Regions from separate parts of the Homo sapiens genome. Here region 1 is linked to region 2. Evidence: fine-mapped expression QTL. A gene starts in region 2. The other region holds a variant in brackets. All regions are shown on one strand. Distances are from middle to middle.

Region 1 (15,502 bases), 27 kb before region 2:
GGCAGCGCCCAGTTCTCCCTCAGTGGGATGGTAAACTCAACTCTTGTGGTATCTATTCTGCACAAAAGAAAACACAAATGGCCAAAGTGATAGTTTTTACAATAATTTCCTCGAAGACTTCCTCAACGAAAGATATATTACATTAAGGACAAGTATACTTAAGATTCTGGCCACTGGTTCTCAATAATTGTCCTTATCATCATCATCATCATCATCATCATCATCCCTGTAACATAAAATTGGCATAGAGAACATTTAAGTGCTCTGTCCATGGGTATGCCCTTAGCACCTAGGGTTCAAGCCCAGGTTAGCCTTACTCCTAAACTCACAAATGTATCATGCCAAACCCTTACTTTCATTTCTCCCTCACTTTATTAGTGTCAAGAGGCAATACACATTTTCCCTCTCTCTGTATTTCTTTGGTGTTTTTTATACTTGAGTCTTAAATATGTCATTGACAGTATTTTTTAAAAAAACTTCCTGCCTCTCTAGAATGTGAATCCCAACAGGGCAAGTATGGGTAAAATTTTTCATCTTTGTACACCATCCCCACACATACTAGGCATTCAATAAATGATACACTTATGTAACACATAATATACGTGTGTGTATCTACATCTCAAACAAGGTACCTATATCTACATATATCTCTCTATAAAAGATAGAGATATATATGAAACAATGTATCAAACAATGTATCTATATCTACATATATCTCTATATAAAAGAAATATATATAGATGTCTGTAATATCTGTATCTATATACAAAATGTAACCTTTAAAGCCTCAATTTTATCATTTCTAAAATGGGGATAATAATAATATCTACTCTATAGGGTTCTTCTAAGAACCCATATAACACATATTGTAAAGTGCTTGGCATACAGTAAACCCCCAACAGGACTGTCATAACACGTAATTTGCTTAGACTTACAAAATAAAACCTGTATTAGAACTCATGTTCAAGTTTTAAGACTCCTATTGAATACTGGTATTGCCATTATAGGACAGGCAATAATTTAATGATCTTGAATACATTTTTTTAAAATGTGATTTCATAAGGCTCTACTGCTTATAATAGTAGATATTAAATAAGGCAAAAACGCCCTTGCATTTTATCTTTAAGCTCTACTAACTGAGAGCCATACACAACCCTATTAAGGTTGATAGTGAAGATATAATTAAAACTTTTTAGGCAAGGCACAGTAGCTCATGCCTGTAATCTTGATACTTTGGGAGGCCAAGGTGGGAGGACTGCTTGAAGCCAGGAGTTCAAGACCAGCCTGGGCAACATAGGGAGATCCTGTCTCTACAAAAAACAAAAACAACCCCTAAATAAATAAAAATTTTAAAAGTCTTCATTGGCTTTAAAAAACAGCAAGAAAAAAACCCAAAAAACTTTTTAATGACTGATACGTTAATTACCTTGATCTGATCACTATACATTCTATATGTATTGAAATATCACTATGTAGCCCATGAATATGTATAATTATTATTTGCCAATTTAAAAAAACCCTTTAAGAGATGAGATATGCGGCTGGAGAAATCTTGATCACCCAGCAAACAGATAATAGGTTTGGGATTATTATGAATGATTTTCTTGATATGCAATTCAATGCTCTCTGTTCCTCAGCTGGAATTACATGTAAGTAGCACTTTCTCCCTAACTAAATAAGAAAAATTGAGTAAACCACCAGGCAAACCAAAGAGAAACTGCTCCCAACCAAACAAATGTGGCAGAAGAAATTTCTCTGAGCTGGAAATGAAGTGACTTCATTTTTACTTACATTTTGGAAAAAAAAGAAGCATACTGACTCCAACTCACCTATTTGTGACATACCAGAAAGCTGCCAACAGTCCTGACAGCCATGTACCACTGAGTAGCCAGCTGGTTATGTAGAGAGCTGTGACATAGATCGCCTGGAGCCCAAATAAGGTGTAAATATAAAAATAAACTGGCTCTAAATATTTCTGTAAAAGGGAACAATAAAACATGTTTGTCAGGTGAGCCCTAACCCTCCTCAGTGCCATTTAAAACATGACAGTAGGAATACAATATGCAGGAGCTTGCCTCTAATTCCAAGCAGCAAGCCCACACCCCTTTCATCTATTAGAGAAGCGTTCGGGTAGCCTTTCTTCCCACCACCGAGAAGAGACAGGGGAAGGAAGTCCGTGACAGGTCTGGCTTCACTCTTTACTCTAGAAAGTTTTATACCTAACTTTGTCTGATGATACGTCATTCACATGAGAAGTGGTCATTGTGATTTGCTGACTTTACAAATTTTTTCTCTCAAAGATCCATCAGGAGTGAATGTGTAATCACTCCTGATTACAGAGAGCAAATGAAAATATTTATTAGCTTCTAGACCGCATACATACATAAGCCAGGAAGCATCTGTGTACAAAAACCTTATATCCTATGTAAATAAAAAGCAGTATCTTATAAAGTTCATAATATACATGGAAAAAAAATATAGTATTGCTGATTTTCTACTAAACCAGTTGAAGATCAGAAAGAACGATGTGATAACTTTCAGTTCAAAATGGCAGACTTTGACTTTCATCTGATATTAATAATTCAATATCACAAAACATACCTGTATGGGTAGAACTCTATATAAAATACTGAGAAAAACCTCTTGGTAAATATTCATTCGCTGAAGGAGGTTAATTGTCTTCATAGATTCAGTTTTATTATCATATATTAGGCCATGAAAACCTATAGATATGTGAAAAGTCAGGAAGAAAATAATTACACTCATAATTATTCATTCATTCAAAACTATGCACAGATTGTTTAGTAAGTGCTAGAGACTGTGGTAGGCATTGGGGATATAAGAGTAAGCAAAAAAAACATACTCCTGCCCTCAAAGAGCTTACCACATATTCGATGGACATCATTTAAACATTTACACAAACATAGGTAAATTAAAACTTTTGTAACTGGAATGAAACCACCACCACCACCACCACAAGGTCCTTCTCTAGAAATGTGGGCAAGAGGATTTCACATTTCTCCACCCTGCCCTCCTGCCATGCAACCTGCAGTATCTCCTTTGGGAGAGTATACATGGCCTTCCTTCTCCACTCCCCAGAACGGCTTTGGCCATGTGCTCTAACCAGTGGCATGTAAGTGGATGTAAGCCATAGCTGAGCAGAGGCTTTAGAAGACAAGGCATGTTTCTACCAGCTCTTGCTCTTGCCCTCTGCCATGACACTGGCACATTCCAAATAGGGCTTGAATGCGCAGATGTTGGGGGCAGACCAGAGCTGCAGCTCCCTCACAGCAGACATGTCATGAGAAGGATGAAGGAGAACTTGACCTGCTGTTACAGAGATCCACAGCCACAGAGGTCCTCTGTCACTGTAACCAGGCTAATTAATCCAAGGCATGAATGGATAGTTCACAGAAGAAAACATGCACACAGTCCTTCCACACAGGAGAAGATCCTCAACCTTGCTCCTATTAAAACAGTGCAAATTAAAACTACCCTGAGGGATGCTAGTTCTCACCTACTGCCTTGGCAAAAAAAGTTTTACAATACACTCTGTGAGATTATAAAAAAGTAGACTCCTATATACTACAGTTGGGAATACAAAATGGTGTCATCTCTATGGAGAGGAATTTTGCAGTATCCAGCAAAATCACATATGAATTTACCCTTTGACCTAGAAAGCCCATGTCTAGGAATCAATCCCACACAAAGGCTGGCAAAAATACAAAATGACATTGGCACAAGGTCACTCATGCAGCACCATTTGTACCAGCAAAAGATTGATCCAAAACAACCCAGATGTTCCTCAATAGGAGGTGCTGTGGACTGAAATGTGTCCCCCACAAATTTGTATGCTGAAGCCCGAAGCCCTAATATGACTGTTCTTGGAGACAGGGCCTACAGGAGGTAATAAAGGGTAAGTGAGGTCACATGGGTGGGGTCTTAATCTGATAGGACTGGTGTTCTTATAAGAGGAACAGACAAGAGCTTGCCCTTGTGCTCTCTCTGCATTTGCACAGAGGGAAAGGCTATGTGAGGACACAGCAACAAAAGGGCATCTACAAAGCCAGGAAGAGAGGCCTCAATAGAAACCAATCCTAACAGCAGGTGGATCTTGGACTTCTAGCCTCCAAAAGGGAGAGAAAAATCTCTGTTGTTTAAGCCACGCAGTCTGTGGTATTACATTATGGCAAGCCTAAAGTCTAACACAGGAGTGTTATGGATGGATAACTCTCCAACCTAAGAGTTGGACAGTTATGGGCCCTCATGATGGGATTAGTGGCCTTACAAGAAGAGACACCAGAGAACTCGCTCTTCTCTTTCTGCCATGTAAGGACACAGCAAGAAGGTGGCTGTCTGCAAGCCAGGAAGAGAGCCCTCCCTAGAACCTGACCATGTGGCTCCCTAACCTCAGACTTCCAGCCTCCTGAATTGTGAGAAAATAAATTTCTGCCATTTAAGAGTCTGTCGTGTTTTAATTAATTAGTTAATTTTTTTACTTTTCTATTTTGAGACGGAGTCTCGCTCTGTCGCCCAGGCTGGAGTGCAGTAGCGTGATCTCGGCTCACCGCAACCTCCACCTCCCAGGTTTAAGCGATTCTCCTGCCTCAGCCTCCGGAGTAGCTGGAATTACAGGCATGCGCCACTACGCCCGGCTAATTTTTTTGTATTTTTAGTAGAGATGGGGTTTCTCCATGTTGGTCAAGCTGGTCTCGAACTCCCGACCTCAGGTGATCCATCCGCCTCGGCCTCCCAAAGTGCTGGGACTACAGGAGTGAGCCACTGCGCCCAGGCTCAGAGGATCATTTTAAACTTCAACAAACAGCAAAACAATGCAAAGGACATGGCATAAAACAGACTTTCTGAAAAGGACACTGCAGTGTGAGAGCCGAGACAAGGAGGCAGAGTGTCGCCTCATTCAGTCTCTGTGGGAAACACGCATGCCAGAGGCTAAAGTATTCTGTTGCTCTGGACGTGTCCATGAATGACTGTGAAAGTACTATTAATGCTGATTTTAGGGTTATAAGTACATTTTAGGAAGTAAAAGATTTTGCAACTATGGAATCTGTGAATAACAAGGTTTGATTGTATGGGGAAAAAATGAATACTAAGCCTGCTTTTCTTGTATAAACTGTACTGCAAGGTAGCCAAACAATTAACGAGAAGGTTTTCTATATAACATAGTTCCAACTAATAAATAAGGAGGAATGACAGAATTAGAAGGTCACTAATTTGCATCCCCTCTGAAATAAGAACTACAGACGATAATCATCAATGGCTGCTAAAACCACTAAGCGAAGGGCTGGTGATTAATTACCCTTATTATGGATGAATCTGGCTATCATCACAGGGACCAACTCATTAATTTTTATGGCACAAAACCAAAGATAACCAAAATGTCATGTCTCCTAGGTGATAAAACTACAAGTAAAAAACATCACTTATGGGCTGGGCGCGGTGGCTCATGCCTATAATTCCAACACACTGGGAGGCTGAGGCAGGAGGATCACTTGAGCTCAGGAGTTTGAGACCAGCCTGGGCAACACAGTGAGACTTCGTCTCCACAGAGAAACAAAACAAAACAAAAAATGAACGTGGTAGTGCACACCCATAGTCCCAGCTACTTGAGAGGCTGAGGCAGGAGGACTGCTTGAGGCTGGGAGATTGAGACTACAGCGAGCTATGATCATATCACTGCACTCCAGCCTGGACGACAGAGTGAGACCCTGTCTCAAAAACAACAGCAAAAAAATAATTTATGAATAACTGCCACCAAAAATGTCAAAGCTGACTCCAAATAAAGCCTATAAAAGAGCAGTTTTCTGTCACATGCACTCATGCTAAGCCGATCAAGTATGTACTAGGTAGAAGAGATCCATGTTGGGGCTTTCATTAGATGGAGTAAAGGCAGAGTGTGGGGTCTAACCCACTTAGGGGAAGTAAAAATGCAGGAAAATGGCAACTGTGAAATAAAGGAATGAATGGAGCACTGGGGACAAGAGGCACAACTGTAATTTTCATTTGTGTTACCAAAATGCCTCCTGTTCTCAGACAATACTCCTTTCACCTGCAAAGACCTCCTCCAAAATGATCATGAGAAAATTCAGCAACAAAACCATGAAATTGCAAAGATATTACTTTTGGGATGGAACAGAGCTGGAAGGCAAAGAGAGGAGGGTTATATAAAGTATTACATAACTTCTTCCAGAGCAAAAAACATTTTCATGAAATGATTAGACATTAGCACGGAAAAATACACATGTTCTAGAGAGCATTTAAGTGGTTTTTAGTGCACAGTACTTCTCACTAAAATATTGAAAAAAATGCAGGAGACCCCAAATGAAACTATCAGTTGTAATTACCTTGCACGAGGGTTGGAGCCTGCAGCATCTGCTTGTAGTAGGAGTAATACAGGCCACACTCTGTTCTGAATGAGATTTCTCGCTCCACTTCCTAAAACAGAGTTAGATCCTATGGGTTTATGTGACCTAGTTTTGTTTAAATACATATTGTTACTGTAGAAAGGATACATAACTGCAACTTGAAAGAGAAAAAACTCTGAAAATATAGTCTCAAAAAATCTTGGCAAACAAGAATGGAAGGCTGATCACTGTTAAAGCTGAGTGAGGGATACATGGGAGTCTGTCCTACTATTCTCTACTTTAGTGAATGTTTAATCTTAAAAAAAATTTTAAAGAATACATCACCATTCCTATGTAATAGCAGTGAGACACAAAACAGGGATGGCACAAAAAAAAATGAAAAGAAATATAATTGCATTAGACACCTACCTAAAAGCTACCAATATTACATAAGATCAATCATTTTCATTTTATTCTAAGAATAAAAGGTATTTGTAGTCAAATAAGGCAGACACATGAATTTTACTCTGACAAGCGTAACCCTGGTGGGAAGAGGTTTATGCAGGTAAATGGATACATGAAATATTTAAACTGCTTTTAGATAAGTATTCAACCCTAGAAGAACTGAAAACTTAAATAGCTATTAGCCAATTTAGTTACAAGATACTTTTATTAAATTTAAATTATTACTATAAAACAGAAGCAATGGGCAACAATGACACGGAAGACTTTCTGGAATAATCCAATTAATACTGTTAGATGATACACTTTATTTATAGGTTGAGCAGCCCTAACCTGAAAAGCTGAAATCCAAATGAAATACTTTAAAATTGGATACCTTCTGAGAGCCAACACGATGACACAAGTTACCCTGAAAGTGTTATTTTTTTCACCGTATTGATGGTATGTCATATTTTTTATTGTTAAGTACTTATGTACGAATAAGTATAACAAAATGATTACTTATAAAGGCACCATGTAAATTCAGAGTCAGGAACAATGGTGATGCCAAATAACCATAGACTGTCCACTGGGATGGTTGAGATAGTGACACCTTTGTTTTCTGATGGTTCAGTGTCTACAAACTTTGTTTTATGAACTATATTGTATAAAATCACCTTCAGGCTATGTGCATAAGGTATACATAAAACATAAATGAATTTCATCTTTACACCTGAATCCTATCCCCAAGATTTCTCATTATATATATGCAAATAATCCAAAATCTGAAATCCAAGACACTTCTGGCCCCAAGTATTTCAGATGAGGGATACTTAACCTGTACCTGTAAAAGTATAAATAAATAAAAAGTTATAATCTATGTTATTAGAGATTCTTTTACACCAGTGTTAAAAACAAAACAAAACAAACCATGTCCTAAAATCTGTAACACACTGTCTAAAATATAATTCGATCTGTTTTTTTTTTTTGAGACGGAGTTTCACTCGTTGCCCAGGCTGGAGTGCAATGGTGCGATCTCGGCTCACTGCAACCTCCAACTTCCAGGTTCAAGCGATTGTCCTGCCTCAGCCTCCCTAGTAGCTGGGATTACAGGCATGTGCACCATGCCCGGCTAATTTGGTATTTTTAGTAGAGATGGGGTTTCTCCATGTTGGTAAGGCTGGTCTTGAACTCCCGACCTCAGGTGATCCATCTGCCTCGGCCTCCCAAAGTGCTGGGATTACAGGCGTGAGCCACTGCACCCGGCCATGCTTTTTCATATTATAGCAGATTCACATTCCACAAACCCAATGGGGGAAAGTGATAAATACTGAACATCTCATTTTCTAGCTGATGAACTTCTTTTAGCTCATTTTGCTTCCCCCTAACTCCAACTAATTTTCAAATGGTAATAAACATCTCATTAAAAGAACCACTCAGGCTGGGTGCGGTGGCTCATGCCTATAGCCATGCACTTTGGGAGGCTGAAGTGGGTGGATTGCTTGAGCTCAGGAGTTCAAGACCAGCCTGGGCAACATGGCAAAACCCTGTCTCTACAAAAAAAAAAAAAAAAAGTAGCCAGGCATAGTGGCATGCACCTGAACTCCCAGCAACTGGGGAGGTTGAGGAAGGGGGATCGATTGAGACTCAGCCTACTGGGAGGCTGAGGCTGCTGTGAGCCATGATCAAGCCACTCCAGCCTGGATGATAGAGCGAGACCCTGCCTCAAAAAATAAATAAATAAATAAATAAGAAAGAACCATTCATGCTATTATCTTCAGACTTAGAAATTATTTATTTAATATATTTCTGCTACCCTCTAAATCTTTTTATCATTGTTTGTTAATTCCTTTTAGAAAAATGGGAGGTAGGGTAGCAAATCTTATATATTGAACTTCCTTTCACAGAAAACCAATTTATCCTGGGGAAATCAAGCATTTAAAAAAAGGCCCATCAGGTTCTGAAATTTATTTATTTTTTTTTGGAGACAGGGTCTCACTCTGTCACCCAGGCTGAGTACGGTGGCATGATCACGGCTCATCGTAGCCTTTGCGTGTCAGGGTCAAGTGATCCTCTCGGCTTCCAAGTAGCTGGGATTACAGGCACATGCCACTATGTCCACCTAATTTCTGTATTTTTTGTAGAGGTAGGGTTTTGCCATGTTGCCCAGGCTGGTCTTGAACTCCTGAGCTTAAGTGATCCTCCTGCCGTGGCCTCCCAAAGTGCTGGGATTACAGACAGAAGCCACAGTGCCTGGGCCTAAAATTTAATTTCAATAACACACTTGCGTTATAAAAAGGCTACTACATAATGATACAGCTTTTTAAACTTTCATTGCTAGTGATTTGTGTTGTATCTTTCATAGCAGTAAAGGCAACTCTTCTGGGTAGTTACTTTAATCCACTCATTTTTTATCTTTGAGAAAACGTGCTCTATTGCTTTTGAGAACTTAAAACCAACCTGGTATCACTCGTTTCTAGAATGTCCAAACTCCTACTCATTCAAATAACCACAGAGGCTATGAATTGATGTTAACTGAGCAAATACTAGCTTTTGTCCATGCAAATTAAGAACAACAACAACAACATTAATTACATTATTTTTCTTTTCTCTAGCTTCCTTAAAGTGTTCAAAGGCACTTGAGGAGTGTGAAAATCCTGTCACACCTACATCCCAAATCAAACTGGAGAGCCAATAAAGAATGAAAGAGTGAATTATATGGTTCTAAGAATAAAAGACCAGGGAATAAGAAAAAAC[A/G]CTGCTCAAAGTACTAAAGGTAGAAAGCTTTTGTGTCCCATCTCTCCCTTTATTATAGCCAGAATGCACAAAGAACAGAGGGGGACCTAATTAGTAAAAATGCATTCAAACATGATTAATTGGTAATCTAGCACCAGCTGTACAGAACCAAATGCTATACTTTATTAGACAGACACTTGCAAGTTTTACATCTGCTTCATGCTAAGAGAACATCTGCTTCACTCATTCAAACACTTTTCCAGTTTTACAGCAATTTATACTTCGCTTGGTAGATCACACCCGTGAAAATATACACCAATAGTAGTTATCCTCTAAAGAATGCAAAACGAACAAATACTTCATATTCAATTTGCACAGGTTCCATGGGGAATGCAATGTTGACAGAACGAAAACATCTTCGAAGATAATGACAGAAAGAAGTGGAAAGACAAAAGACTTGTATTTATAAAGAACTGTACAGCTGGCCGGGTGTGGTGGCTCACGCCTGTAATCCCAGCACTTTGGGAGGCTGAGGCGGGTGGATCCTGAGGTCAGGAGTTCACGACCAGCCTGGCCAAGATGGTGAAACCCCGTCTCTACTAAAAATACAAAAAATTAGCCAAGCGCGGTGGCAGGCGCCTGTAATCCCAGCTACTCAGGAGGCTGAGGCAGGAGAATCACTTGAACTCGGAGGGCAGAGGTTGCAGTGAGCTGAGATCGCACCACTGCACTCCAGCCTGGGAGACAGAGTGAGACTCCGTCTCAAAACAAACAAACAACAACAACAAGAAAAAAAACAAAAAAAAAACTGTACAGCTAAAACCATTGAAGTAACAGTGTATATAGCAATTTAATAGATGTACACACACACAAAAAATGACTGCTCACAATAAATGATCACATTCCCCACAGGCACTCAGACAAGTTGCTGGCAATGCCCAAAAGGCTAGAGTCCTTTGAGACAAATGACACCAAATTTGGAAAGGAAACATCAAATTAGCTTTTTAAAAATCTCACGTAAATAGATCCCCCACATAATGTCTGGTCACTCTGGCCTGCCTTTAGCAAGAACCCTCTAAGCCTGGTTGAGCCAGGATCCCCCGCATCCCAGTGGTTCCTCTTACTCATTTCCCAGCCACTGACCCCAATCCGCTCCTTGGCTGCCTATTCCTACTCACCCATGATGTACTAGAAGTTGAGTACAATCTCTCTCCACCACTGCAAGACCTCATTGCAGTGGTCCCTACATCTATCGCAATGGTCCTGAAGTCTTTCTCCTCTTGCTTTTTTTTAAAAAAAACAAAACAACTCATGTTTAAAAAAACAAGAACAACTCACGTAAAAAAGTTCTGTTTACAGGCCAGGCGCGGTGGCTCACACCTGTAACCCCAACACTTTGGGAAGCCGAGGTGGGCAGATCACCTGAGGTCAGGAGTTTGAGACGAGCCTGGCCAACATGGCGAAACCCCGTCTTTACTAAAAATACAAAAATTAGCTGGGCATTGTGGTGCATGTCTGTAATTCCAGCTACTTGGGAGGCTGAGGCATGAGAATTGCTTGAATCCGGGAGGTGGAAGTTGCAGTCAGCTGAGATCCCGGCACTGCACTCCAGCCTGGGTGATGGAGTGAAACTCTGTCTCAAAAAAAAAAAAAAAAAAAAAGATTTGTTTACAAAAATTGTCCCCCAAAATAATTAGACTGCTAGTAGTGGGGAAGCCACCGAAAAATTAACTTTATAAATGTAATCTGTTTCAGAATTAGGTTAACAAATCATCTCACCAAGAAATAGTAGCCCATAAGACAGCTGTTCTTAAAGTTCTGTACTGGGAATCATGCCCTCAGCAAACATATTTATGGCACATACATGGTTTATTGTCTGGTTAAATTCATGTCCATCTGTTAGAGGGGAATGATTCTTGCCCCAGAGTTGATTAAAGCCGTGGCATGTGAGAAGTGCCAAGCAGGGCTTGTGAGGAGGGCAGTCTGCTACTGAAGTGACAGTTCTTCCACTGGGCCCACACTCAGGCAATCAGCAGTCTTAGCACTACCGTACTACTATTGTGTGGATTACCCCTATCTATTCTAAAGTCTCCTTGCTTTGCAGGAGTATTCAATGGGAAGACATGCAAATTCGGCAATATCAAGTAAATAAGAATAACAGTGGAAAATGTTAGCACAAGGAAAAAAGACTAAAAAGAAAGAGTGATGTTGGTGCTTATAGCCAAAGGAGAACTGCCTTCCTTATCATTGCATATTTATTTGCTGGGGAAACAAAAAGGTGCAAGAATTTAGTATTTGACCGAAAGATGTTTATGTTCCAACAAGAAAGAAGAATGCGGGGGTGCGGTGGCTCACGCTTATAACCCCAGCACTTTAGAAGGCCGAGGTAGGTGGATTACTTAAGCCCAGGACTTTAAGACCAGCCTAGGCAACATGGCAAGACCCAGGCTGTACTAAAAATATAAAAAATTAGCTGGGCATGGTGGTATGCCCCTGTAGTTCCAGCTACTTGAGGGGTTGCAGTGGGAGAATCACCTGAGCTCAGGAAGTCGAGGCTACAGTGAGCCGAGATCGCACCTCTGCACTCCAGACTGGGAGACAGAGCAAGATCCTGCCTCAAAAACAAACAAACAAACAACGAAACACCAAAGAAAGAACACATTGTAAACAAAGGGAAACGACTTCAGGCACGCCTCATCTCACTGTGCCTCACTTTCCCGCCCTTTGCAGATAATGCATTTTTACAAATTGAAACTTAGTGGCAACTATGCATCAAACAACTATCAACACCATTTCTGCAACAGCTATTGCTCACTTTTTGTCTCTGTCACATTTTAGTAATTCTTCCAATATTTCACATTTTTCTTTATTATTATACCTGTCACGGGATCTGGGATCAGTGATCTTTGATGTTATTAATACTACTGTAACTGTTTTGGGGCACAATAAACCACACCCATGTAAGACGGTGAACTGAAATGTGTGTGTTCTGACAGCTCTGTCATTCTTCTGTCTCATTTCCTCTCCCCAGGCCTCTCTGCTCCCTGAGACACAATAATATCGGAATTAATAACTTTACAATAGCCTCTAAGCGTCGAAAGGAAGTGTGGCACATCTCTCACTTTAAATGGAAAGCTAGAGATGATAAGTTAGTGAGGAAAGCATGTCGAAAGTTGAGAGAGACCAAAAACTAGGCCTCCTGTGCCAAAGAGCCAAGTTGTTAACACAAAGGAAAAGTTACGGAAGGAAATTAAAAGTGCTACTCCAGTGAACGCACCAATGATAAGAATGAAAAACAGCCTCATTGCTGATACGGGGAAAGTCTAATGCTCTGATGGAAAATCAAATCATCTAAAACATTCTCTTAAGCCAACGCCTAATCCAGAGCAAGGCCCTCTCTTCAATTCTGTGAAGGCTAGAGAGGTGAGGAAGCTGCAGAAGAAAAGCTGGAAGCTAGCAGAGGTTGGTTCATGAGGTTGAGGGGAAGTAGCCATCTCCCTAACATACAAGTGCAAGGTGAAGCTGAAAGTGCTGATGGAAAAGCTGCAGCAAGTCATCCAGAAGATCCAGCTAAGATCCCTGATGAAGGTGCCTACATTAAACAACAGATACTCAATGTAGATGAAACAGCCTTCTATTGGAAGAAGATGCCATCTCGGACTTTTACAGCTCAGGAGAAGTCAATGCCTGACTTCAAAGCTTCAGAGCATAGGCTGACTCTCGTTAGGGGCTAATACAGCTGGTGGCTTTAAGTTGAAGCCAATGTTCACTTACCATTCTGAAAATCCTAGGGTCCTTATTAAGAATGATGTGAAATCTACTCTGCTTGTGCACTAAAGATGGACAACAAAACCTGGATGACAGCCCATGTGTTGACAGCACGATTTACTATTTTAGGCCCACTGTTGAGATCTACTACACAGAAAAAAAAAATTCTTTTCAAAATACTACTGCTCATTGATAATGCATCTGGTTATCTGTGTTATTTTCATGCCTGCTAACACAAAATCTATTCTACAGCCCATGGATCAAGGAATAATTTTGACTTTTGAGTCTTAATTTTTTTCTTTTTTTTTTTTGAGACAGAGTCTCGCTCTGTTACCCACGATGGAGCACAGTGGCGCCATCTCAGCTCACTGCAACCTCTGCCTCCCGGGTTCAAGTGATCCTTCTGTCTCAGCCTCCCTAGTAGCTGGGACTACAGATGTGTGCCATCACGCCTGGCTAATTTTTGTATTTTTAATAGATACAGGGTTTTACTATTTTGGCCCGGCTGGTCTTGAACTCCTGACCTCAAGTGATCTGCCTGCCTTGGCCTCCAAACTGCTGAGATTACAGGCATGAGCCACAGCACCTGGTCTGATGGTGTACTTTGGAGTACAAAAATGTCTAATTTTGATGAACACCAATTTATTTATTTATTTTTAATCATGTGTTTTTAGTGTGGTCTCTATGAAGTTTTGGCCTACTCCACAGTTATAAAAGATTCATTTGCATATTTTCTTCTAAATGTTTTATAGTTTTAGACATTTAGGCCTATGATCCATCTTGAGTTAATTTTTGTGTATGGTGTGAGGCAGTGGTCTAATTTCATTCTTTTGCATGTGAATATCCATTTGTTTATAGACCATTTATTGAAGACTATTCTTTCTCCACGTAACTGTCCTTCCTGGTGCCCTGCTGAAAATCACTTGACCATCTAAGGATTTATGTCTGTATTCCCAATTTTATTCCATTGATTTATATGTCTATCCTTATGCCAGCATCAGAGTCTTGATTACTGTGGCTGTATAGTAAGTTTTGAAGTCAGAAAGTTTGAGTCTTACAACTTTGTTCTTCTTTTTCAAAACTGTTTTAGCTATTCTGAGTCCCTTGAGTTTCCATATACATTTTAGGACTAGCTTGTCAATTTCTGTGAAAAGTCCACCTGGGATTCTGAGAGGGATCATGTTGACTCTGTAGGTCAACTTGAAGATCTACAGAGACCTTTTTTTGTTTTTGAGACAGGTTCTTGCTCTGTTGCCCAGGCTGGAGCACAACGGCATGATCTTGGCTCACTGAAGACTTGGCTTCCTGAGCTCAGGTGATCATCCCATTGCACCCTCTCAAGCAGCTGGGTGTAAGCTGTGTGCCACCAAGCCTGGCTAATTTTTTTTTTTGTATTTTTAGTAGAGACAAGTTTTCACCATGTTGCCCAGGCTTGTGTGTCTTATCAGTTTTAAATCAAACTTTCTGACTTCCAGTTATAAAAGAGAAAGAAATCAGGATACTCCCATCCATTTTTTTTTATTTATTTCTTTTTTTTTTTTAGAGACAGGGTCTCACTCTGTTGCCCAGACCGGAGTGCAGTGGTGTGATCACAGCTCACTGCAGCCTTGACCTCCCCAGCTCAGGTGACCCTCCTGCCTCAGCTTCCCAAGTAACTGGGGCTGCAGGTGCACACTACCACACCCAGCTAATTTTTTAAAAATTTTTTGTAGAGATGGGATCTCACTATGTTGCCCAGGCTGGTCTTGAACTTCTGGGCTCAAGCAATCCTCCCACCTTTTGCCCTCCAGAGTGCTGAGACGACAGCTGTGAGCCACTGTGCCAGCTGGCCTCCCCAACCTTTTTTTTTTCGAGATGGTCTCATTCTGTCACCCAGGCTGGAGGCCAATGGCACAATCTTAGCTAATGATAACTTCTGTGTCCTGAGCTCAAGTGATCCTCCTACCTCAGTCTCCCGAGTAGGTGGGACTATAGGCACATGCCACCATGCCTGGCAAATTGTTTTTGTTTTTAGAGATGGGGTTTCACCATGTTGCCCAGGCTTGTCTTGAACTACTGAGCTCAAGCGATCCTGCCGCCTTGGCCTCCCAAAATGCTGGGATGACAGGCATGAGCCACTGTGCCCAGTCAGCCTCCACCATCTTTTACCCTCTCTTCCCCTTCTTCTTTTATCTTGTGTTATACGTATTACACTG
Region 2 (15,502 bases):
GCACAGAGTATTAGATAGTCATGAACATGCTGAGGACCCTCTGTGGAGCCACATTTAGACCCCATGATTTAAAGCAGTGGCTTTTTTATTTCCTTTTCTGTTTTTTTTTTTTCCTGTTGTAGCCAACAAGAAAAAAAAGAAAAGGAAGTACCTTGTATACTGTGACCCAGTTTGTGCATATATATATATATATAAAATTAAAAGTTTCACAAAACAATCCTCAACCCTACTAGATGTGATAGTATTCTTTCTTTTTGATTTCATTAAGAAAAATGTTACTCATGACCTACTGCACTAATTTCACAATCTATAACTTGAAAAATACTAATTTAGAATAACTGCTAAATAAATGGAATAAGTTAATGAAAAAGAAAAAACTCACTTGATTATAAAAATTCTGGGCTGGGTGCTATGGCTCATTCTCATATTTTGGAAGACCAGGGCAGTAGGATCGCTTGAGCCCAGGAGTTCGAGACCAGCATGGGCAACAAAGTGAGACCCTGTCTCTACAAAAAAATCAAATTTAGCTTGGTGAGGTGGTGCATGCCTGGGGTCCCAGTGACACAGGAAGCTTAGGCAGGATACTCACTTGAGCCCAGGAGGTTGAGGCTGCAGTGACCCATGTTTGCACCACTGCATTCTAGCCTGGGTGACAGAGCAATACCCTATCTCAAAAAATTAAAATGAAAAATAAAGATTCTGGCTGGACGCAGTGGCTCACGCCTGTAATCCCAGCACTTTGGGAGGCTGAGACAGGCAGATCACAAGGTCAGGAGTTCGAGATCAGCCTGGTCAATATGCTGAAACCCCGTCTCTAGTAAAAATACAAAAATTAGCTGGGTGTGGTGGCACGCACCTATAGTCCCAGCTACTTGGGAGGCTAAGCCAGAAGAATCACCTGAACCTGCGAGGCAGAGGTTGTAGTGAGCCAAGATTGCGCCACCGCACTCCAGCCTGGGTGACAGAGTGAGACTCCATCTCAAAAATAAATAAATAATAAAGAAAAATTTAAAAAAAGATTCTAATATGTTATTTTAAAATAATAAACACAAAAGTTATTTCACTCTATAGTCCAACCTTTCTAGAGATTGGATTCTTTATGGCAAAACTGTGTTGCCTTGGTCATTCATCCACATGGCTTACTACTGGAGATCCCACTGAGTGAATGATACAATGGTCAAAGAAACTCCATACCTTAATATTAGAAAACCATAAATCATTTTCATGTAACGTGGCAAGGTAGACAGATGTAAGAAGTCCAATGCAAAGGGCAATGGTTCCACCAATTGTCAATGACAAAATCTTCCATAATCTTCTACTGGTACAACCTTTTGGAAAAATGGAACAGATAAATAACTAAGTCAGTAAAAAAATCAGAATGTAATAGTTCTACTTCAGATTATCAAGTAAGCTAAGTCTAGCTGCCTGTCACTGGGAAAGCTTTTCCTGTCTCCAGCGGAGGGTCCTTTCTGATTCCACAGACCTGTTTTCATTCTATTACAACTGTTACCCCGTATCTAACTGTCCATGTGTCCATTCTGCCAACTACAACGTGAGCTTCTTGAAGACAAATACATTATCTTATTCATGTTTAATACTGAGGGCCTCTGTCCGGCACAGTTTAACAACCGTAATTTAACTATGAAGTCTGTTAAATGGATGACTAAATGTGTTACGTGTCTAGGACGTAATCGATCTTTTAGATAATCTAGGTACAATTGGTGGCTTATTCTTTAAAAGCTATTTTAAAAACTTGATTACCTAAAAAATAATTATTGTTTTTTGAGACAGGATCTTGTTCTGTTGCCCAAGATGGAATGCAGTAGTGCAATCTCGGTTCACTGCAACCTCTGCCTCCTAGGTTCAAGCAATTCTCCCACCTCAGCCTCCTGAGTAGCTGGGACTACAGGCACATGCCACCATGCCTGGCTAATTTTTGTATTTTTAGTAGATACAGGGTTTCACCATGTTGGCCAGGCTGGTCTTGAACTCCTGACCTCAAGTGATTCACCCACCCAAGCTGGGATCCTAAAGTGCTGGGATTACGGGCATGAGCCACTGCACCTGGCCGATTACCTAAAACTTTTTTTTTAAACCCACAGGTTTTGCAGGAATGCTCTGGGGGGAAAAACCCACAGAATAAATAATCCAACATAACTCAAGTTAAAGGACATATAAACTAGGCAAAATATGGATAGCACATATAAGAAAGCTTAAATACCCTTAACATAAGATGAATACTTTCAGGACAATTTATTTTATTTCAGGACAATTTATTGTCCTGTCAAGATGAATACTGCAGTAGGAAAAAGATTAAGGACATGAACAGGCAATGTACAATAGAAAAAAGTGGCCAATAATAATAACAGACTGAAGATGTTTAAATTCATTAATGTTAAAGAAATGCAAATCAAAACTGTGAGTTATACTTAAATCTTGGCCAATTTGACAGCTTTCAAAATGCTAATACTGTTTTGGTAAGGGTATAAAAAATAGACATCTTCAAACATTGCTGCTAGAAGAATAAATTGGTGCCTCTCTGGAATGCAACATGGCAGCAGTGAGTAAAAGCCACCAAAATGAGCATCCCATTTGGCCAGTAATTCCCAATCTAGGCATGTACCCTGCTGTGGTTTGACTATTCGGCCCCTCCAAATCTCATGATGAAATGTGATTCCCAATGTTGGAGGTGGGGCCTAATGGGAGGTGGTGTGGTGATGGAACCAGAGCCCTTATAAACAGGTTGGTGAGATTCTAGCAGTACTGAGTTTTCATTCTGTTAGTCCTAGGGGAGCTGGTTGGTTAAAAAAGAGCCTGACATCCTGTGTTCCCTGGAAATTGCTTCTACTCTGGTCATGTGATCTCTACACACTGGCTCCCCTAAGTCTTCTGCCACGACTGGAAGCTTCCTGAGGTCTCACTAGAGGCAGATGCTGGTGCCATGCTTCTCATACAGTCTGCAGAACCCTGAGGCAAAGAAACCTCTTTTCTTTATAAATCACCTAGCCTCAAGTATTCCTTTATAGCAACAGAAATGGACTAAGACATGCCCCAAGGAAATAAAGTTTTAAACAAACATATGGCCACAAGGAAATTGATCACAGTTCTGTCTGTATTAGCAAATGGTAAGAAAACCTTTCACTTCTACAGTGGCAGCTATAAAAATACTTTACATAGATGATATTTCAAAAATACGTTAACTGGCTTATGACATGTTCATAACATAATAAGAGAAAAATAGCAAGCTACAAAACAGCACGTGGATCCCAATTTTGCAAAACTGTATACGAATGCTTATGGGTATACATGTGCAGAATATGACATTAAGACAGCAAGACAGTGCCACTGGTGTTAGTTTCAGGATGGGAGTATATTTCTTTTTCTTTGCATTGTTTAAGGTGTTCAGAAAGTACTATTATCCAAAACGTGTTAATCACTCGCTAATGGCTGAGCCAGGTGTCATGACCTCCCATTACAGATTACTTTTGTTAAACTGTTTCCCTGAATTGCTTTACTAGCCTGGCTGGTAAGAATTAACATGGCTGTAAATAATGTAAATTCTGTCAGATATCCAAAATGGTTAATGGGTATGAAGATTTTCATGTTAACTTTTAAAATCCTGACCATGCTTTAGTTACAAAAGCTACTCAGGAAGCAAGAAGTTGGTAATTAATGCTATCTGATGCATCACTTAGCAAGTCTTTACCATTATACAAACAACTGACCAAGTTCTGATTACTTTTCCCACCAATAAAAGAAAAAAAAAAAAAAGCAAAAGAAAACTTCAGGAATTTGACTAATTATAAAGAATTTTTAAAAAATGTTGATCCACCTTTCACTACCTTAATGGAAACTCACCCAAGGTAAGGTTGCCTGGTGTAAATAGTATACACGACCAGAAAAATTAGAGAGAGACTAAAATCTGGGGTGTGGGTGGGGGGACCATTACTCTAGAGAGTCAAAGGATGAGATTGGAAGAACCGTAAGTTAATGAACAGACAGCTGACAAACACTTCTAATCAAAGCTCTTTCATCTTTTGTCAAATCATAACTGTAAAATCAATCTAATCAAATTGCAATTAGAATATCAGGGTACTACAACAAGTTTCAATTGTTAGGTCCCACCAAATTTTTATCCTATTGGAGAGTGACATTTTAATATGCAGAAATAAAAGCAACCCAAATTGCTGCTTTAGTTTAAATCACCTACCAGATGGCAATTTATTTTCCAACTTCACATTTTCTTCTTGGGCTGGAAAGTCTTCAGAAACTTCTGTGGCTCTTATTTCTCTTCTTTGCCGGATGGACATCATGATGTCAGACTTACATGCATTGTTCTCCAAATCACTCCTAGATAGCAATAAACAGGCCATCAACGTCAGTGCCTTCTCCCCAACACACCCCGTGCTCATCCATGCTGAAATGCCTTTACTTATGCCATTTTCCCTCTATTAGCATGCCCTCCCTTTTTTTTTCTTCCCCCCAAGACAGGGTCTCACTGTCACTCAGGCTGGAGTGCAGCGGCACCATCACGGCTCACTGTAGCCTCTACTTCCACAGGCTCAGGTGATCCACCTCAGCCTCCCGAGTATCTGGACTACAGGCATGTGCTACTACACCTGGCTAATTATTTTTTGTAAAGATGGGGTCTCCCTATCTTGCCCAGGCTGGTACTGAACTCCTGGCCTCATGCGATCCTCCCCGCCTTGGACTCCCAAAGTGCTAGGATTACATGAATGAGCCATTGTGCCCAGCCTGCCCTCGATCTTGCCATCTAAATCGTTGCTGGCCTTCAAAGCTACACTCAAAACACAATTCAAATATTTATTCAACTCAATCATATTTATTCATGAAGCATGTGCTCTACAGCAGGCCCTGCCAGGAGTCAGGAATACAGGTAAGCAACACAAACGAGCCACTGCTTTTCTTCCAGAACATCTTGGGACATTCCAGTTCCGGCTGATCTTCTCCCTCCCTGAGCCATAGCAGTTACCACGCAATGCGTCACGTAACTACACAGTTGTATATTATTTTCTACTTCCATAGGCGGTAGTAGGTCTTCAGTACCTCCCACAGAAGTGGCCACGTGGGAGATACTCCATAGTAAATGTGTTGACAACCGGATTTTGAAGAATTAAAATATTGTTTTGTCTCAGGTACCTGAATTTTAACACCAGTGTTCTATAAAACAATTCACACTGGCAGCTTCAGGAATACGCCTCAGTGGTGATGACTGCGGGGGTGTGCCAATCAGGGCAGCTGCTATCCCAGGGAGCGTCGGTGGGAGTAATGGGTGGGGGGGAGCAGGAGCCTGGTTTGGCAGCAGCAAGTGGGAGGCGGGGGAGTGGTGGCAGTGAGTAAGCGGGTTCCAGTCCTCCAGAACATCTTGCTTCACTCCTCTGAATAATGAACAGCCTCTTACTAATTATTTCTTAAATGTGACTAGTAGCCTGACATGATTGTTTCCACAGTTTATTAATTCCTAAGGGTAACTTGCTCTACAGAACAAACCAACTAACATTATACAATTCATGTATTCATTCATACCAAAAAAAAAAAAAAAAGCAGGAAGCCAGATTTAAGTACTGTGCTTTCAAGCACTGGAAATGGAGAATCTGGAACAGAGAGGGAGAAGAGGAGTGTTTAACAAAGTCCTACAGCCACAGATGGGCTTATCCCCCATGTGACCTCATCCTAGAGTCCTCCCTAAGTGTGAGAGGACTTTTTTAAACAATTCATATATTCTAATATGTTAAGGCAGAAAACCAACACATATTTAAGTACCAATTATGTGTCAGGCACTGCAACAGTCCCATGAACTAAGAAAAAAAGTTCCTCCATCAGATCAAAAGGAATGCCATTGTAAACAACTGAAAAGGGACCAGAAGCGATTCTTTATTAATAAGGACGACTAGCGCTAGCCGGGCGAGGCGGCTCATGTAATCCCAGCGCTTTGGGAGGTTGAGGCAGGAGGATGACTTCAGACCATGAGTTTGAGACCAGCCTGGGGAACAGAGCGAGACCCTATCTATACAATAAAATAGCCAGGCTCGGTGGTGCATGCCTGTGGTCCCAGCTACTCCAGAGGCTGAGGTGGGAGAATCGCTTGAGCCCAAGAGTTCGAGGTTGCAGTGAGCCGTGATAACGCCACTGCACTCCAGCCTGGGCGAGACAGCGAGACCCCTGTCTCTAAAAAATAAAAATAAAAAAGCCTAGCGCTCTAGTGAGCATCCCCTGGACGAGGCAGGCACCGGGTCCGCTTACCTACGCGCCACGCCCCTGCACACCTGGCGTCCCCATCAGGTAGGTCTCCAAGGACAGGGGCAGCCGGGAAGTTCAGGCACGCGCCCCAGCTCTCCCAAGACCGCGAGCGGCCGCCGGGGTCGCAGCCCAGGCCCTGCCTCGCCGCACGGCCGACGAGCAGAAGCCGCTCCGCAAACTTGGTCCTTCCGGAGCCCAGCCCGGCCCGCGTCCCGGCAGACACTCCCGCGCTCCGCCCCTCCCGACGCCCCGACGCCGCGGCCGCGCCCCCCGACTGCGCCACGCGGCGGGGAGGGGCGGCCCCAGGGGCTCGGGGCTGTAGCCGAGGGTTCCGCCGGCGCCCGCCCGCCCTCTCGGTAGACCCTCGCCCGCGCGTCCCGGCGCGCCGCCACAGACCTGCGGCCTCAGCCGTCCTCACGCGCGGCTCCGGGAGGGGAAGGAGGCCGACGGGGCTAGGCGGGAACGGGGCCGCGCCACGGGCCGCAGCGCGCCGCGGGTACAAGGAGGGCAGAACCGCCGCGGAGCTTTGTGGAAATGAGGGGCTGGGGGGCGTCAACAGCCCCGGGGAGGGGGCGCGCCGGAGAGGCCGGGCGGCTGCCCCCGCGCCCATAGGCCCCGGGAGCTGTTCGTCAACACTAGGCCCCGCCTCCTCCCGCGGTTCCCCGCCTCGTCTCGTGCTGCGCTGGCCGGAAGGAAGCGGCACACTTCCGCTTGCCTGGTCCGCATTGAGTCCGGTCTGTTCCGGAGACTCTGAGCGCGGCCGCGGAGCTGCAGTGGCGGGGAGTGGGGTGCGGATCTTGTGTTTGCGCACGCAGTCGCCGGCCACCTCAGGCCGGAGCTAGAGATACGGCTCGGGATAGGAGGGCCCGGCGGCTCTGAGGCAGGTTCGCCTCGAGCCGCACGGCCCGGAGCAGCGGCTCCGCGGTGGTCCCCGGGGCTTGAGAGGGGTGCGGGCCTGGGAGCCCCTGAGGGCCTGATTTACGGAACTCCCCCTCCTTCCTCCTTTCTGCCGTTCCCTGCTCTGTGGCGGATGCGCAGGGATCAGTAGGGACGGCAGCAGTAGGGCCACTCGGGCCTGCCCCGCTTCCCGCATTGCCCGGTTTGGCGCGCCGCCTCCGGGCCTTGGCAAAGCCCCAGCGCCCGATTGTCACTGACCAGTGCTTGGAAGTCCTTTACCGACTGCCCGTCAGCGTCCCGCGGAGAGGATTTTGCGTCTCCAAAGACGCCCCTCTTCCGAAAACAGGCTCCTCTGTGTTCTCAGTCGGGTATATTTTTCTGTCTCCAAACTAGATTGGCAGCCGTTTTTTGAGAGCAGGTACTGACTGTGCTTTATTTCTAGATACTTTTCTTAGTCACACCACGGAAAACACTAGGTGGAACCTTTTTTAAAATTATTTTTTACAGGTGAGGCTCTCAGTCTGTCGCCCAGGCTGGAGTGCAGTGGTGCTATCACGGCTCACTGCAACCTCGGCCTCCTGGGCGCAAGCGATCCTCCCGCCTCAGCCTCCGGAGTAGCTGGGACCACAGGCTCGCACTACTATGCCCAGCTAATTTTTAAATTTTTCGTAGAGATGGGGGTCTTGCTTTGTCGTCCAGGCTGGAGTGCAGTGGTGTGATCGTAGCTCACTGCAACCTTAGTCCCCTGTGCCCAAGTGACCCTGCTTCCTCAGCCTCCTGAGTAGCTGAGATTCATTTTAATTTTTATAGTGATGGGGTCTCGTTGTGTTGACCAGTCTGGTCTAAAACTCCTGAGTTCAAGCAGGCCTCCTGCCTCAGCTTCTCAAAATGTTGGGATTACAGGCTTTAGCCACTGCAGCGGGCCCATCAAACGTTGTATTTGTCAGTACATAATTTACATGTTAATTGATTTTTGTTAAAGGGATGGCCATCTGGGACCTCCACCCGTGAAAAGGCGGCTCATTGGTCTGACTCCAACACTAAATTACGCCATCCAGGAAGCCTTTCCTAGTCACCTCTGTTGGAGATCGTCCTCCTTTGTGTGTCGGTTGTTAGTAAAGAGCACACGTTCTGTGGAAAGATGTTGAGGTATCTGCTGGATGGCTTTGATAGAAACAAATGTCAGCTGTTTTTTCAGATGGCATTTGTCTTGTTTCAGCCTGGTTGTTGGTAGCTTTTCTGTCGCCTGGCTTGAGGGCAAGGACTGTATGTTTATTTTTCACGTTAAGATGCCTTTATGTGCATGTGTCTGTTTCATGAATACATAGGTGAATTGAGTTCCCCTTAAATAGGATTTCCCTCTTATTTTATAGGTTTTTTTTTTTCTCTCAAGTTGTTTCACTCTGGGGGAAATGTGACCATTGTGAAATATCATCGCTTAGTTAAAAAGAAAGTAGAATTCAGCAGTAGCTGCTTTTTTTAATACTATGAAAAGACATTCCTAAGCAAGATGAAGCTTTGAGACTTTTCCTAAGTAGGACCTACTGCTGAGAGTAAGTCTTGGGGAGAATAAGCCAATTAAGAATGAGTCTTTGGTTCTGATAAAGTAACCATGGAGGTGATGGATAATGAGTGTAGGTCCTTGCTCACACTTCTGGCCATATGAGCCCGGAGCCAGGGAGGTACTATAAAAGGAATGGGCTCCTGTAATGGACTGTGACTGCAGTGGTGGTATATAGCAAGACTTCCGGTTTGCAGTAGGTTTAGAAGCCTAAATAGTCTCCCTGGTTGTCTCTGCCAGGGCCACAAATAGTTGTGCTGTGCATCTCAAAAGTGTGGTCTGGGGATCTGCAGCGTCACTGTCACCATCACTTGGGAGGTTGTTAAGAAATGCATGTTATCAGGCCCTACCCCACGCCTACTCAATTTAGAATCTGTAGGGCTAGGGGACCACTAATCTTTAAGAAGTTGATATGGTTAGGCTTTATGTCCACACCCAAATCTCATCTTGAATTGTAATTCCCATAATCCCCACCTTTCAAGGGAGAGACCAGGTGGAGGTAATTGAATTATGGAGGCAGCTTCCCCCATGCTGTTCTCATGATAGTGAGTTCTCACAAGATGTGATGGTTTTATAAGGGGATCTTGCCTCTTCGCTCAGCACTTCTTCCTGCCTCCTTGTGAGGAAAGTGCCTTGCTTCCCCCTTTGCCTTCTGCCATGTTTGTAAGTTTTCTGAGGCTTCCCCAGCCATGCTGAACTGTGAGTCAATTAAACTTCTTTCCTTTATAAATTACCCAGTCTTGGGCATTCTTTGTAGCAGTATCCTTTATAGCAGTATGTATAGCTGTATGGACTAGTACAGAAGTTTTCCAGATAATTCTGTGCTCGGAAAAGTTTGGGAACCACAGCAGAACCTTGTTACTCAACATGTGGTCTGTGGGCTGTGCAGCATGGGCATCACCTGGGGTCTTCTGAGAAAAGCCAGGTCTCAGGTCCTACCCAAGACCTGTGTAGCCAAAATCTGCATTTTAATATGACCCCCAGGTCATTTATGTGTACATCACACTTTGAGAAGCACTGCACCAGAAATCTTTTAACACTGTTCATTACATCCATCCCATGGAAGTATCTTGTCTTGGGATCCCGAGGGTGTGAGTTCTTCCGTCTTACTGGCTTTTTCCTGTCTGATACATGATGTCCATTTTAAAAATTTTATTTATTTTAACTTTTTGAGGTAGAGTCTAACTTTGTCACCCAGGCTGGTGTGCAGTGGGGTGATTTCGGCTCACTGCAACCTCCGTCTCCCGGATTGAAACGATTCTCCTGTCTCAGCCTCCTGAGTAGCTGGCATCACGTGCTGGCCACCACGCCCGGTTAATTTTTGTATGTTTAGTAGAGACAGAGCTTCACCATGTTGGCCAGGCTGGTCTCAAACTTCTGATCTCAAGTCATCCACCTGCCTTGGCCTCCCAAAGTGCTGGGATTACAGGTGTCCTCCACTGCGCCCAGCCCAGTGTTCATTTTTCAATTGTTTGACTTAGTATAAACACTCTCCATCATTCCTGCCTTCTGTGACAACAGACTGTGCGTGTTTCCTCTGTCTACCTTTCAGGCATTCCTTTTAAGTTTCATGCAGCTACTCCTCCTCCCTCCTCCCTTCTCTTTCTCTTCTTTCTTCTTTTCTTCTTTCTTCCTCTTCCTTCTTCTTCCTCTTCCTCCTGTTCTTCCTCCTCCTCCTCTCTTCTTTCTTCTTCTCCTCCCTTCTCCCTTTTTGGAAAGAGGACTTACTGTGTCATCCAGCCTAGAGTGCAGTGGCTGAATCATGGCTCAGTGCAGCCTTGCTCTCAAAGGCTCAAGCAATCCTCCCATCTCATCTTCCAGAATAGCTAGGTTACAGGCATGCACCACCATGCCTGACTAATTTTTTAAAAATTTTTTTGTAAAGATTGGGGGTGGCAGGGGGTCTCTCTGTTGCCCAGGCTGGTCTCAAACTCCTGGGCTGCAGCGATCCTCTTGCCTCAGCCTTCCAAATTGTTGGGATTACAGGCATGAGCCACCATGCCTGGCCTCCTCTTCCTCTTAAAAATCAATGATTCTGTGGCCCGTGGATCTGATTTCCACTGATACTCTGATAACTCCTGTTTTTATGTCCAGGTGTATCTCCTGGTCTCCAGGTGCCATATGTCCACTGCCTATTGGACATTTCCATGTGTGTAAACACCTCAAACTCAACATGTTAAACCTTTTTCTAATCCCCACACTTGCGGTTCCTTCTGTGTGCTCCATTTACCTTATTGCTCAAATCAAGAGCCTAGAAGCCATCCTTGATTCCTCTCTATTGTGTAATCCACACATCCAATCATCCATTGAGTCCTGTTGGCATTTATCTCGTAAATACCTCAGATCTTGTTCACTTTGCTCATCTCTGTTGCCACCACCGTAGTCCATTTACCTGTATGTAATAACCATAGTGATCTTACTAAAATATAAATCCCTTGGAGGCGTTTTGGCTTTATTATAAAAATTAAGCTCCATGACACAGCTTGTAAGGACTGCCACGAATCAGGCTCTGTTTCCCTCTTCAACCTCTCCTTCACTTTCTATTCACATAAACCTCTGTCAGAGGTTTGTCACGTGGCTTATAAAAAGTCTTAAACCCTCTTTAATTGACTAGGTACTCTTCAGCCTTTAGACCTCAGCTTACACGATCTGTGCTGCCTCATGTTTATCCTCATACAGTATCCGGTTCCACAGAATCATGGTTTTTCTTTGTGAACAACAGAATACCGTGGAAGTGACAGTGTGGGACTTCTGAGGCTAAGTCATAAAAGACATCCCAGTTTCAGCCTTAGCCTCTCTTGGATTGCTCACTTAGCGGGGATGCCAGCCACCATGTAGTGAGGACACTCAAACTGCCTGTAGAGAAGGCCACGTAGGCAACAGCCTGCACCACCTTGGCAGCCATGGGAGTGAGCCATCTTGGAAGTATTAGGTTGGTGGGACATTAAAAGTAATGGCAAAAACCAAGATTACTTTTGCACCAACCTAATAGATCGGCCAGCTACAGGTCAGCCTTCAGATGGCGGCATAAGAGATCTTGGGCCAGAAGTGCCCATCTATGCCACTCCCAAGTATTTGACACACAGAGACTATGAGGATAATAAATGTACATTGTTTTTTTAAGCCACTAAGTTTTGGGGGTAATTTTGTACAATGATAGATAACCAATACAATATCCACCGTATGTATGTGTTACGATTTATTTATTCCCATCTAGTTGGACATCTAGGTTGTTTCTAGTTTTATGCTATTTCAGGGAATGCTGTAAGAACATACTTATATTTATGTAACTCTTTAGGATGTATTTCTGGAAACAGGGTTGTTGGAATTCATATTCTTTTTTTTTTTTTTGAGACAGAGTCTCACTCTGTCGCCCAAGCTAGAGTGCAGTGGCGCAATCTTGTCTCACTGCAACCTCTGCCTCCCAGGTTCAAGCGATTCTCCTGCCTCAGCCTCCTGAGAAGCTTGGATTACAGGCACCCGCCATCATGCCGGGCTAATTTTTGTCTTTTTAGTAGAGATGGGATTTCACCATGTTGGCTAGGCTGGTCTTGAACTCCTGACCTCAAGTGATCCACCCGCCTCGGCCTCCCAAAGTGCTGGGATTACAGTTGTGAGCCACCATGCCCAGCCCTAGAACTCATATTCTAAATTGTGATAAACATTGGTAAACTACATTCCAAAAAGGTTAAAGATTCTATTGTTTTTCTCTTCCACCAGTGGGTATTATGACACTTATTTCTCCATGCCATTGCCAACAATTAGTTTTTAAATCTTTGCCAATCTTAGGTGACAAATAATACATGATTAGTGTGCATTCTTTATTAATGAGGTGAAGACAATATATCAGGAGTTTATTGGCTATTTGCATTTCTTTTGTATAATTTGTCTTTTTGTGTTCTTTCACCATCTATTTAATCTTGCTGTGACGGGATTATTTATAGATTATGAGTTTTTTTTGTTTTTGTTTTCGAGACAGGGTCTTGCTCTGTTGCCCAGACTGGAGTGCAGTGGCGCCATCTCAGCTGACTGCAGATTCAACCTTCTGAGCTCACGAAATCCTCCCATCTCAACCTCCTGAGTAGCTGGGACCACAGGTGTGTGCCTGGCTAATTTAAAACAATTTTTTGTAGAGATGGGGTTTTGCCATGTTGCCCAGGCTAGTCTTGAACCCCTGAGCTCAAGGAATCTGCCCACCTCGGCCTCCCAAAGTGCTGGGATTACAGGTGTGAGCCACTGCGCCTGGCCGATTATGGGTATTTATTAATCTGTTGTCATATATGCTGCAGATAGTTTCTCATTATTGTGTATCTGGTATGATGTCTTTTGCTATGCAGGGATTTTCCATTTTTATATTGTCAAATTTCTTTTATACCTTCTGGGTTTTTCCATCATGCTTAGAAAAACCTTCCCCATCTCAAGATTGTAAATGTTTTTTAATTCTTTCTGCTAGTATTTAAAAATATTATAACTTTTTAATATGGTGTGGGAGAGACTTGACAATTTTTTTTTAAATTAGATAGTTGATTATTTCACCATCATCCTTACTCTACTGATTTAAATTACCTGTACCACATACTGAATTCCCATATGTATATGGCTTATTTATAAGCTCACTCTTTTTTTTTTTTTTTTTTTCTGGAGACAGGGTCTTGCCCTGTGGCCCAGGCTGGAGTGCAGTGGCATGATCTCGGCTCACTGCAACTTCCACTTCCTGAGCTCAAGCAGTTCTCCCACCTCCGCCTCCCAAGTAGCTGGGACTATAGGTGGGACTATAGCCACCACGCCTGGCTAATTTTTGTATTATAAGATGACACTTATGTTTAAATGATTTTAAAAAGTAATTAGTCTTGAAACAGTTCTACATGTTTTTAATTATTTTATAGAATGTTTTCATATTGAGAGGGCAATTGACCCTTCATTACACTTCTTTTAACCACATATTTTGGCAATTTCTGCATATTTATTTGCTCAGATAAACTTTATAATCATTTACTAAGTTCTAAAACAGAATCCATGGAAATTTTTACTAGAATTATATAAAGTGTTTAGAAATGTTTGGGAGAAATGAGATATTTACAATGCTGAGTATTCCCTTACAGAAACATGTATGGGGCAGTTTGGTATACTACATATATTTTTTTCCAACAGTACTTTCATCCAATTTAGTTGACTTTTCAAGTATCTTGGTAAAAGTCAATGCAATGGTCGCCAAACTTCTTTTATTTATTTATTTATTTATTTATTTATTTATTTATTTATTTATTGAGACAGGATTTCACTCTGTTTCCCAAACTGGAGTGCAGTGGCGCGATCTTGGCTCTCTGCAGCCTTGACCTCCTGGGTTCTAGCGATTCTCATGCCTCAGCCTCCTGAGTAGCTGGGACTACAGGCGTGTACCACCACACCTGACTAATTTTTGTACTTCCAGTAGAGATGGGGCTTCACCATGTTGGCCAGGCTGGTCTTGAGCTCCTAGCTTCAAGTGATCTGCCTGCCTTGGTCTCCCCAAAGTGCTGGGATTACAGACGTGAGCCAGTGCGCCCAGCCTCCAAACTTTTATCAGAAAAAAATTTTGTCTTCTCTTTCTGTATACATATAAACATTTTTTTTTTTAAATGAGGCAAGGTCTCACCATGTTGCCTAGGCTAGTCTTGAACTTTTGAGCTCAAGTGATCCTCCAGCCTTGGCCTACCAAAATGTTGGGATTACAGGCATGAGGCACCACACCCAGCCCATATAAACATATTTTTAAGCAAAGTGACTACACGTGGAAATCCTAGTGTTTTCTGCATACATTCCATTGGATTGTTTTACACACACTGTGTATGACTCATGTCAGAGACCACAGAGGTGGGGCCTGTCTATGGCAGTCCTCTGAGATTGGCTTGGCATGCGTGGGTCTTAGGGAACCCAGGCCAAGTGTCAGGGATGAGCTTCCTCTATGCTCGCATCATTCCAGAGTCCCACAGTCACTGACATCACATTGGATTCCTCTTTCCCTCCTTTAAAATGTTTGTCAATAGATGGCTTCTCCTCTGTGAGTCTTCATGTGGCAGGCCAGGTCTCACTAATGCAGGCCTCCATGACAACCGTTTCAGTACTGACTGAGTGGCGAAGTTAAATATTAAAAGCTGATAGAGCCAGTGCCCTATACAAATGCTGGAATGTAACAAAAGCCCACCAAGAGTTCTGCCCTGGCCTTTCCTGGGCCTTGAAGCATGACAAGATAATGAGGAATTTTCCACAGGACCCGTTTGGGATTATACAGGTTTTATTGGGGGTCTGAAGAAACTCCCCAGGCCTCCACAGGCAAGTTTATTGGGGTCTGAAGGAACTCCCCAAACCATGATTTAGCAGGAAACAAGATAAGGGTAATCACCCCAGCACCTGGACCCATTTAGATTAAATAAATTTACTGAGGCTCCAGGGGAAGGTCTTCAGGACTCAGATCTTAGTTAGAGATCAGAAAAAGTCGACCACTTATGTCTGTAGATGAATGCACACTTACACACAGACATATAGCTTAGAAGGTATATAAGCTCTGGAACACTGTGATTTTGAGTTGGTCTGGGGATAATTTCTAGGCCTTCTCCCTGTATCCAGTTACAGAAATAAACTCCCTCCTTTCCCAGTTCATCTGCGTCTCATTATTGGGCTGTGAGAATAAGCAGCCTGACCCTCGATTTGGTCCGGGAACATTCAGAAAAAGCATTATGAAATATTGTTTGTGTTTTTTCTCTTCCTTTGTTCAACTTTATATTAACTAGATTTGTAGTGCTT

What was found. PIP is the estimated chance that this variant, and not a neighbour inherited with it, causes the effect.
Region 1: its variant is fine-mapped to the expression of DPY19L3 in whole blood (INTERVAL, PIP above 0.99).

The regions. Positions count from the first base shown.
Region 1 is chr19:32,423,667-32,439,168 of GRCh38, reverse strand. DPY19L3 (dpy-19 like C-mannosyltransferase 3) reads right to left here. Exons shown (of 19, transcript NM_001172774.2): 4 at 6,363-6,453; 5 at 2,602-2,723; 6 at 1,830-1,975; 7 at 1-57. Among named protein-coding and RNA genes, the nearest start is that of DPY19L3, 26 kb to the right of the region's middle. The variant A/G (reference allele first, on the strand shown) is at 9,561.
Region 2 is chr19:32,397,065-32,412,566 of GRCh38, reverse strand. It overlaps DPY19L3 (dpy-19 like C-mannosyltransferase 3), which reads right to left and starts at 6,797. Exons shown (of 19, transcript NM_001172774.2): 1 at 6,658-6,797; 2 at 4,211-4,350; 3 at 1,195-1,328. The coding sequence starts at 4,313. DPY19L3-DT (DPY19L3 divergent transcript) reads left to right here and starts at 7,028. Exons shown (of 3, transcript NR_046201.1): 1 at 7,028-7,576; 2 at 12,699-12,816. RefSeq lists silencers at 6,416-7,165, 7,196-7,245.